Homo sapiens: one gene and its partners. The protein of the gene in region 3 purifies or fractionates together with the protein of the main gene of each other region. This does not show direct contact. Each region holds a gene or a part of one and is shown on either strand. Other genes may lie near its edges.

Region 1 (3,337 bases), on a different chromosome or scaffold from region 3:
ACAACAACCTGACAGAGTCTGTGGGCCCACTTCCCAAATCTCTGGAGGATCTGCAGCTTACTCATAACAAGATCACAAAGCTGGGCTCTTTTGAAGGATTGGTAAACCTGACCTTCATCCATCTCCAGCACAATCGGCTGAAAGAGGATGCTGTTTCAGCTGCTTTTAAAGGTCTTAAATCACTCGAATACCTTGACTTGAGCTTCAATCAGATAGCCAGACTGCCTTCTGGTCTCCCTGTCTCTCTTCTAACTCTCTACTTAGACAACAATAAGATCAGCAACATCCCTGATGAGTATTTCAAGCGTTTTAATGCATTGCAGTATCTGCGTTTATCTCACAACGAACTGGCTGATAGTGGAATACCTGGAAATTCTTTCAATGTGTCATCCCTGGTTGAGCTGGATCTGTCCTATAACAAGCTTAAAAACATACCAACTGTCAATGAAAACCTTGAAAACTATTACCTGGAGGTCAATCAACTTGAGAGTAAGTAAAAAGCTGTTCCTGTGTTTGATGTGTGCTCAAGTGTTTAAATACCTGGGCTGCACAACACAGATATTGCATCTGGCTCCATTAAAAAAACAAAATGTCGCCCGGGCGCTGTGGCTCATTCCTGTAAATCCAGCATTTTGGGAGGCCGAAGTGGGCGGATCACCAGGTCAGGAGTTGAGACCAGCCTGGCCAACATGATGAAACCCCATCTCTACTAAAAATACAAAAATTAGCCAGGCGTGGTGTCGCACTTCTGTAATCCCAGCTACTCAGGAGGCTGAGCCAGGAGAATTGCTTGAACCTGGGAGATAGAGGTTGCAGTGAGCCGAGATCGTGCCACTGTACTCAAGCCTGGGCAAGACAGCCAGATTCTGTCTTGGAAAAAAAAAAAATGTCCACAAAATATCCCTCTACTTCAAACAAAGAATAATTCTAGCTCAATCATATATCCAATATCCAGCCTTTCTTTGGTGTATCCAGATAAGGAACAATTAAGGTCACAGAATTTAATATGTAAGTCTTCAAACTAAAAATTCCGGGCCAACTCATCCTGCTGTGTTACCTCCTCATATATATCTCTTATTATTTTCTCCTTTATGGCTTAGATTTGTGTCCTACATTTATTTTTTGACAAGATCTAGATGAGGGAGGAAGAAATGAGTTCAAAAGTGGCACAGTTGGCAAACTCCATAGCCACAAAGAAGCCCATATTGTCCCTCCCTCCCTCCCTCTCTCTCTCTTTTTCTTTCTTCCTTCCTTTCTTTCCCTTTCTTTCTTTCTTTCTTTCTTTCTTTCTTTCTTTCTTTCTTTCTTTCTTTCTTTCTCTTTCTTTCTTTCTTTCTTTCTTTCTTTCTTTCTTTCTTTCTTTCTTTCCTTTCTTTCTTTCTTCTTTCTCTCTTTCTTTCTTTCTTTTTCTTTCCTTCTTTCTTTCTTTCGTTTTCTTTCTTTCTTTCTTTCTTTTTTTTTTTGACAGGGTCTCACTCTGTCGCCCAGACTGGAGTGAGGTGGTGCAATCTCGGCTCATTGCAACCTCCACCCCCCAGGCTCAGGCGATTCTCCCACCTCAGGCCACCACCACCACCAGGCTAATTTTTATGTTTTTAGTAGAGATGGGGTTTCACCATGTTAACCAGGCTGTTCTTAAAATCCTGACCTCAACTGATCCATCTGCCTTGGCCTCCCAAAGTACTGGGATTACAGGCGTGAGCCACTGTGCCTGGCCCCATATAGTCTCATGGTCTTCCCTGACATCAACTACTTGGGACTCACCATGTTACTCTGCTGTCATGATCATCATCTGCCTCTGTTATCTCTGTTATGGTGTGTGGCCATCACAGTGCTCTGGAGGACTGTGAAGAAGATTAAAGAGAAAAAGAAATATGATGGGAGATTCTAACATCTTTTTTTTTTTTTTTTTTTTTAGAAGAAAAATAGTGTTACAGAGCTTTTTTTTTCTTGGGTACAATCCTGCCCCTCATTTGATATTTCCACACTTTCTCTTTCTCCTCTCTTTATTTTTCATTTATCTTCTGGATGAAGTTTGATCTGATGCATTTGGACTGCTTATGCACTTATGTGGTCTTCAGGGACATTCTTCAACTTAAGCAGTATAGATTCCAATGGGAAATTGAAATCCACCATTTCCTACCAGGATAACTCTGCCATTAATCTTTGGCAGAGCTTGGTAGAAGAGAAAAACCATGATTCACAGATAAGGCTTTCTAAATGAAAAAATCAAGCAGGAAACATTGATTCACATATAAAGTAATAATGTCTGCAAAATAATCTATTGAATTTGAACATCTCTACATGATGAAAATTGGTTTTCTGGCCATGCTGAATAAAGGTATTGCTGTCAGAAAATATTACAATATATTTTATGCATATGATGTTTGTTAATTCTGCCAGTTTCATATAACCTCTAGTAGGGTTAAACGTTTTCATAAAGAAGACCATACTCGCCAACTCTGAAGCTCCACATGTTCTTTGTTGTTTCTGAAAAGCAGCCAAGGTAAGGGTTGGTGCTGTTTGACTGTCACACAATACACAGTCAGGCTAACACAGCTAAACCCCTCTTGTTGTTTCCAGTGGAAAATTCACTATGTGGCCATATGTGATTCCTCATTTTAAACATATGTGGTTAGGAGGAAGGATACTCTCTGACAGACCAAAATGCTAAAGGAATTTACGATGCTTAAGGGATGACGGAGTACATTAGATTTGGTGGGTAGAGATTATTCGTAAGAGCAGGGCTACTTCTTTCTCTGAAACAAAGAAGGATACAGAAGTAGGCACATTTGAAGGTATACATTGCATGAGTAAAGGATGGAAGAGAGGTCTATGGGAGAAAGGCCAACGGCCTGTCAGTGCCAAGCTGAGATAGAAACCACAGTGCCCAGTACATAGTGGTCATTTGAAAAGGTAACATAATAGTTTCCTTTCTTTCTTCCTTATCTTTGTACATTTAGTCAGGTATTCTCCTTGTCTTTTTATGTATCACCTCAGTTTAGGTTATTTTGCCAGATAATAATCAACTATATCAACATTTCACATTCACTTAATACAGAAAGTTCCCCTCAATGTTTTTTTCTAATATTAGGGAATATATAGCCAAAACAAACTGTTTTCTATTTCAAACTTGCAACTCTAAGCATTAGCCCAATCAGAGATCTTCCTAGTGTAGAGTAATTTAGAAAGACAGCAAAATCAAAAGGATATTAGTCATTATTTAGGACATACTATGTACTAGTATTGTGTGAAGTGCTCTACACAACTTAATTTAATCTTCATGCAACACGGTAAGATAGATGTGTTATTTCTAACAAGATCAGATAAGTGTTCC
Region 2 (3,654 bases), on a different chromosome or scaffold from region 3:
ACTGCTTCATTTATTCTCCATGCTCTTTCCCATAAATGAACTATGCTTTTCAAAAGGACATCGTTTTAAGCAAGGGGTCATAATGAAACATGTCTACCAAATAACCTATCACAAATGCTAGCATCTCAAAATCTAACACCACAAAAGTTTTTCTGTAATCCCAGCACTTTGGGAAGCTGACAGGAGGATTGTTTGAGGCCAGGAGTTCAAGACCAGCCTGGGCAACATATTGTGAGCCTGTCTCTTTAAAAAAAAAAAAAAGTTTTCAAATTAATGGTGAATAACTTTTGACACAAAAAATGTTTATGGCACTTCTGCTTGAGGTATAAAAATAATAAGCATAACTTTACTATACCTACAACAGACAAAAAGCAGAGTACAAAGCAGTAATATTAATAATAAAAGGTAAATACATAAAAAGAAAGAGGAACAGTATTTGGTATCAACAAATGTATATAAGGAATTCTAATATTCTTTCCTAATCAGATTCAAGAGTAATGTTTTTAATGAAATAAAGGAAAATAAAGAAAAAGGCATCAGAATTATATATCCTCTTGGACAATTTTTCCCTAAGTATGCTTCTCAAAATAATAGATAACAAAGTTCCCTAGAGGAAAAAAAAAGGTCTGGTCAGATAAATTTGGCAAACAGCTTACTTTTTATCTACATTTTAAAAATATCTGAAACTATAACACAGTGCCTGCTTACAAAACCTTGCATAAATACTAGAGGTTTTTTCTTTGTTAGTGGTCGTTGCACACACTTCTTTGCTGACAAAATTTTTTTCATGGACATCTATTCAAATTTTTTGAAGCATACCTTGGTAATGCTACGGCATGTATAATTTAAATGATTCTAACTTTTAAATGAACCCTATATAATCTACAAAATTAACCTTCCAAAAAGCCATGTAGTATTCAATAGGCCCTACTTAAAAAGAGTGCTTCGATATAGAAATGACCAAAACACAAATCATTATTACAGTTCTCTCCGACATTGTTATTGCAAAACAGGCCAAGAGAGAAAACACATTCCAGTTATGACATTGACCTGGTTATTAATGTAGAATACATCAACCCAAATAGGAATTTCAGACTACACATTTATAGTAACATGGTATAAAATGTGCTTGACTAAACGAAAACTATGTCTAAATTTAAGTCCACACTCTTTAATAACAATTTTTATTAAAAGAAAATATGGCTGTGTTTATATTGTTAGCCCTTCTGCTTTCTGAGACAGCTGATGAAAGTTTGATCTGGAAAGAGACCCCATAACAATGTTCTAATTCTGTATGCTTTTTCTGGACATTAGCAACTTTCATGTCTCGGGGTCCAACTTGAGAACAGAAAATGCCTCTATGATTCATCATCAAATGTAGTTAACACTTGCTTGGAATTTTCAAGAAACTAGCTTTAAAAAAGGTACAAGTTGGGGGCTGGGCGCAGTGGCTCACGCCTATAATCCTAGCACTTTGAGAGGCCGAGGCGGGCAGACTGCCTGAGCTCAGGAGTTCAAGACCAGCCTGGGCATCACAGTGCAACCCTGTCTCTACTAAAATACAAAAAAATTAGCCTGGCGTGGTGGCGTGCACCTGTAGTCCCAGCTGCTCGGGAGACTGAGCCAGGAGAACTGCTTGAACCCAGGAGGCGGAGGCTGCAGTGAGCCGAGATTACGTCACTGCACTCCAGCCTGGGCGACAGAGCGAGACTTCGTACCCCACCCCCCTACCCAAAAAAAAGGTGCTAGATAGAAGGCAGATATAACACTAAGCACACATAAGCTTACATTCAAAAGCATGAAGTCCCTGGTGGTCTAGTGGTTAGGGAAAAAGAGAAAACTAAAAAACAAAAGCATGAGTAGGATTTGTACTATAATAATATGCACCCAGCAAACTGTGTCAAGGCTAAAGAGGCTTCAATCACCAGAAATCAGTGTCAAGTAAAAAAGAGAAATGAAATGTAAAAGTACCCGACTCTGGGGCCAGGTGCCGTGGCTCACACCTGTAATTCCAGCACTTTGGGAGGCCAAGGCAGGCGGATCACGAAGTCAGGAGATCGAGACCATCCTGGTTAACACGGTGAAACCCCATCTCCACTAAAAATACAAAAATTAGCCGGTGTGGTGGCAGACACCTGTAGTCCCAGCTACTTGGGAGGCTGAGGCAGAAGAATGGCGTGAACCCGGGAGGGGGAGCTTGCAGTGAGCCAAGATTGCGCCACTGCACTCCAGCCTGGGCCACAGAGCGAGACTCTGTCTCAAAACAAAACAAAACAAAAACAAAAACAAAAGTACATGACTCTAAAACAGAAAAAGTTTAATGTGGATGAAATTCTGAATTTAAAATATCCAGTACTTTATAGAATTGACTATCCTATGATAAAATATTTACTACTTGACAGGTTCTCAAGAACATCTTTCTTTTTGAGACAGTCTCGCTCTCTCGCCCAGGCTGGAATGCAGTGGCACAATCTTAACCACTCAGTGGTTGCTCACTGCCAACCACCGCCTCGATTCTCCTGCCTCAGCCTCCTGAGTAGCTGAGATTATAGGCATGTGCCACCATGCCCAGCTAATTTTTGTATTTTTAGTAGAGACAGGGTTTCACCATAAAAATGTGCTTGACTCCAGAAAGGAGTTTGGCCAGGCTGGTCTCAAACTCCTGACCTCAAGTGCTCCATCTGCCTTGGCCTCCCAAAGTGCTGGGATTATAGGCGTGAGCCCCCGGCCTGAAGAACATCTTAATATCAGTCCAAAGTTACTCTTAACTAAGAGTATGAAAAGCTAGATACTATACAATCAATCACATAACTCTCACACATTTAAAAGATACTTAAATTCAATAAGAAAAAAAAAAACAAGAAAGCAGTCAAAGCATTTAGTAAATATGAAAAAATCCCTTAAGTAAAAAGCTTGACACAATGAACTTCATTTGAGAACTTCAGTTTCTAGTCTTTAAAAAGTGTTTTAGTACCTAGTAACGTAAGTTGCTATAATTACAGATCTGTGATTTCTTTCAAATAAAACTATAATTAATTCATTTCACAAGTATTTACTGGGCATCTACTACTGTGGAAAAACAAAGATTAAAATACATTATGAACCCTGCCCTAAAGACACTTTAAGAGTCTAGAAGGAATAAGATATATGCACACTGTAGTTAAAATGTAAAGGTAGCTCAGAAAGGAAAAAGCATCTGAAACGTGCTGGGGGAAAGTACAGATTAGGGGAGGCGCTGATGATGAATTTAAATAACAGGTCTAATTCAGACAAAGAAAAGAGCCCTTCCATTGGAAAAAAGATGTTAGAAAAAGCAAGAAAGATGGAAAGCCACCATGAAAAAAATTTAATTTTGCAGAAATGGAAAAAACTACAAAATAATAAATGATAATATAGAAGCTAGGGGTTCCAAGCTCTGGTAACTCAAATATCCTGGCCAGACTAAATCATCAATTAAAACATCTAAAATTGTATATACACTCCACTGATGCTCTATAAATACTTCTAAATTAGTAATCCATGACCCCTTTTACCTGTTGTACTTCCTGGTGGAACGAAATAGTGAAACAAATTTTATTCATACTGTACCTCAGAATAATAATTTTCAGAAGGCAAATTGCTTTATTGTGGAGGTGATTAAAAAGAAAAAATAGA
Region 3 (3,654 bases):
CTGTCCCCAGGTGCCTGAAGTGGCCTGGCACTCCTGAGGGTCAGGAGAAAAAATGAGTATGGCAACCAGCAAGGAAGGAAAACTGCCCTCAACCAGGGTGCAAACACAGTCGAATTAAGTCAGAGCTGGCAGGCAGAAGCCCTGTGTGCTCTGTGAATGTGGCAGCTGCTGCTAGATGCTGACAGGTGCAGGGGCAGGGCTGAGCCGGCGCCTCCGGGTGGCAGCCGTGTGTGTGTGTGTGTGTGTGTGTGTGTGTGTGTGTGTGTGTGTGTGATTGTTATTGCTGGCTCCTCTGGGTGGCAGCCATGTGTGTGTGTGTGTGTGTGTGTGTGTGTGTGTGTGTGAGATTGTTATTGCCGGCATCTCTGGGTGGCAGCTGTGTGTGTGTGTGAGTGTCTGTGTTTGATTGTTATTGTTCTGTGAGAGAGTCCTGGAGGTATAGTGCTCTGAGCTGAGGTGAGTTGTCACATCCATAGCAATCAGGATTCTTTGGATGCAAACCACAGCGATGGACTCTGGCCAACTTTGTGAAGAAGGAATTAATTAGAAGGTTATGGTGGCAGGTAGATCACAGTGTCAGAGGAAGAACTGGAGAAATAAGCTCAAAAAAGACCGGGATTGAGCTATTCAGAGAGTTCCAGTACCAGGCACACATAAGCAGCTTCTCAAACTGAAACTGGGTTTGGTTAGGAAGGATGCTGAGTAGCATAAAACAGAACCAAGCCATCTGACTGCTCTTGTCGTAGAGATCGCGTATTCCTCCTTTCCTGTCAGCTGGTTTAAAAACCTGGGGCAAAGGGGGACCCTGCAGTCCACCCCACTCTTCCTGAGATGCCCTGCGGGGGTTGCAGAGATAGATCAAACACAGGCTGTCTCTCCCCAGGGACCAACAGTCCAGTAGGTGATAGCGGCAACACTGACTATGGCCAGGCAGGCTGCTGAAGGTGGTCTCTGCAACCCGAGTCAGCATGGCAGCCCTGACGGTGTTTTGGTGTGAGCAGCTCGCAGATGCAGCCCAGTTGTTTTGCTTTCTGGGCTGCTTCTTGAGGGTCACCTCAAGTCTGCACACAAGGGTAGAGCTGCAAGCTCTGGAGGGAAATAGCACTGGGTTATAATTTCCACTGGAGGACATCTATAATTTCATGTCTCTGAGTGTGAGTTTGGCCACAGGCTCCTCTGTAGGTGTCTGCACGGGAACCAGTGAGGACCCTCAGGCTTGAGCCCCCATTCTGCTGGATCTGGTGGTCTGGAAGGCTGGGCATAGTGTGACTGCCTCAGCCCCTCCATTTGTGCTAGGGCTGGGGGAGAAGGAGGATGGGGTGGGGAGTTCTCTGACTTTGCACGGTGGGAGTACACCCTTCTTGGAGGATATGAGTGCAAATGGATGTCAAGGAGCCCAGAGCTCTTCAGAGCAAAGAGCTGGGCAAATTCCTGGCTCCCACTCTAACTCTCTCTCCTTATTCTCCCATACCTCCCTCGGCAGGGTTGAATTTCACAATTGGGTCTGACCTGGCTTAGTGTGAATGAAAAGTGGTCGTTTACAGGAATCCTCTCTGTCTCGCTGAATTCCTGCCCCTCAGTCTTTTCCTCACGATTGAAATATACCCAGCCCTTCTTTTCCACTAGGACTTTGCCTGTGCCATCTTACCATCCCTGATTGGTGAACTCGTATTCATCCATCAACACCCAGAGATAATATCACCTCCTCAATGGGACATTCCTCAGGCACCCCAGGCAGTCCATGGTCCATCCCTGATCTTGAAGCATTTCTCCCAAACCACTCAAGTGGGCTTGTCTCCATCCCAGGTCCTGTTACGAAGAGGTGTTTTTCTCTCTCATTGCATGTGGAGCAATACTTCCATGCTATTCATCCTGTTATCACAGAATAAAAGAACGACTGTCTCCCCTAAGAGATATGGTGTGGGTCCCTGTGGCTAGACCATGTGATCTTACCCATAAACAGTCCTCACAAACACTCTCGATTTACGTCTAACCCACTCTTGTCACTGCCTGGCATTCGCGTGTGCCGTTCTTTCTGCCCTCTCTTTTCTTTGTATCTGTCTGCCCTTTGGAGGCCTCCTGCCTCTTCCAGGAGGGTCTCTCTGATTATTCTGGTGCCCAGAATTAGAAAGTATATGGGGTACATGCTGTGGTGTGTGGTAAGTGTTTAACAGCTGGTTCTCAGCATGTAGCTGCAACATGGATTTTGGGTGATATTTTCATTTACAATAAAGTGTAAGATGAAAGTGGAACAATGAACATATGTCAGAACTTCACTTGTTTGTCAGTGATCTAAATAACTTCTTTCCTAAATCACATAATAGTTTCGGAATACTAGAAGAATAGTCCCTCAGCTTTTTGTGAGCTATTCACAATATAACAGCTATCGACAAGACAAAAATTTCAGTTTAATCTGCATTATTGACAATTTTTTTCCATTACTTTCTTAAGTCCAGACAATGAACAAAACAAGAAATCAAGCCTTGATTTATAGCATTTCCATAAATAATCCCATTCTGGCTGATTCCCTGATTTCTGGCCACTCACGATATCCCTGGATGTGGCATGAGGAGGAGTGGACCGTGGCAAGCCCCCGCACCGGCAGGTGGAGCAGCGTCCACAGCGTAGGCAATGGGAATGTGTAGTAGAATGACTAGGAAATGATGGGTTCTGAGTATGTATTGCCTGTGTTTTTAATATAACTTCTTTGACTGTAAGTTTGTATAGTTTAGTTTTGAATAATGTCTGAGTTAAAACAGCTAACTTGAAACATTCCTGATCATCTCACAAGCCACTGTGAGCTGGCTCCAGCACACCACTGGCTGCATACCAAGAAAATCAAGTTGCAGGCAGAGACGAAAACCTTCAGACAGAATTGCGTGGCTGTGTCCACTCAGTTTCGTCAGGGGGTGAGCTTTATTAAGTGCCACAGTAACAGATACTGTCATTGGTTCAGTCAACAACTGTTTCTAACCCCATCTCACTTGGCTTTCCTGCACTGCAGAGGTTGGGAAGCTAAATCCATGTTTCCCAGACTCTTTTGCAGCCAGGGTGCAGGCCTTTGACACAGATCCTCACAAGCAGCCAGATACATCACCCAGCCCCGGATGTGCAGTCGAGTCCCATGAGCTGAAGTCTTTGGCATGCAGGTGATATCTGTCACTCACGGTGGCAGGGACATCTGGACTTGTGGGGTGGCTGTGGTGGACTTTGTAGGAGTTTGGTCCCTTGTGATTGGTGCTGGTACCAGCAGTTTCTACTAGACAGTGCCAGGGCATGGTTAGGCTTTTTTTTCTGGCTACCCTGACCCTTGGAGAGCTCCCAAGCTTGGTCTCTGGCTCTCACAGGGATTTAATGAGCTGCATGATAGCCTTTAATAAGTTCCTTTCTGTTTAAACTACCCAGGTAGAGGCTGCTGTCTGCAGGTGGGAAGCCCTGATTGCTGGAACCTAAGGGATGTGAGAAATCACTGTGGAGTGTCAAGGTAACCAGGGATCTGCTCCTGGGACCTATTAATCCACCTCTTTTAGAAGGAGTCCACAGTCCTGTTTGTATTTGAATATTCATGAACATTAGAAGAGCAACTTAGTCTGGGTATGGCTATGGCTGACAGAAGTATCATGCTGTGTCACAGCTGATTATTAGATCTGCATT

What was found.
Region 1: the proteins of ZNF488 (region 3) and LUM purify together in Homo sapiens (affinity purification with mass spectrometry; one large-scale study listed by BioGRID and IntAct). This does not show direct contact.
Region 2: the proteins of ZNF488 (region 3) and USO1 purify together in Homo sapiens (affinity purification with mass spectrometry; 2 studies listed by BioGRID and IntAct, with this or other methods). This does not show direct contact.

What each region holds. Positions count from the first base shown.
Region 1 is NC_000012.12:91,105,270-91,108,606, reverse strand, and holds part of LUM (lumican precursor), read left to right. Parts: coding exon 1-489; intron 490-3,337.
Region 2 is NC_000004.12:75,727,423-75,731,076, reverse strand, and holds part of USO1 (general vesicular transport factor p115), read right to left. Parts: intron 1-3,654. UniProt on the Homo sapiens protein: General vesicular transport factor required for intercisternal transport in the Golgi stack; it is required for transcytotic fusion and/or subsequent binding of the vesicles to the target membrane.
Region 3 is NC_000010.11:47,374,291-47,377,944, reverse strand, and holds part of ZNF488 (zinc finger protein 488), read left to right. Parts: intron 1-3,405; exon of another isoform or gene 3,406-3,484; intron 3,485-3,654. UniProt on the Homo sapiens protein: Transcriptional repressor. Plays a role in oligodendrocyte differentiation, together with OLIG2. Mediates Notch signaling-activated formation of oligodendrocyte precursors.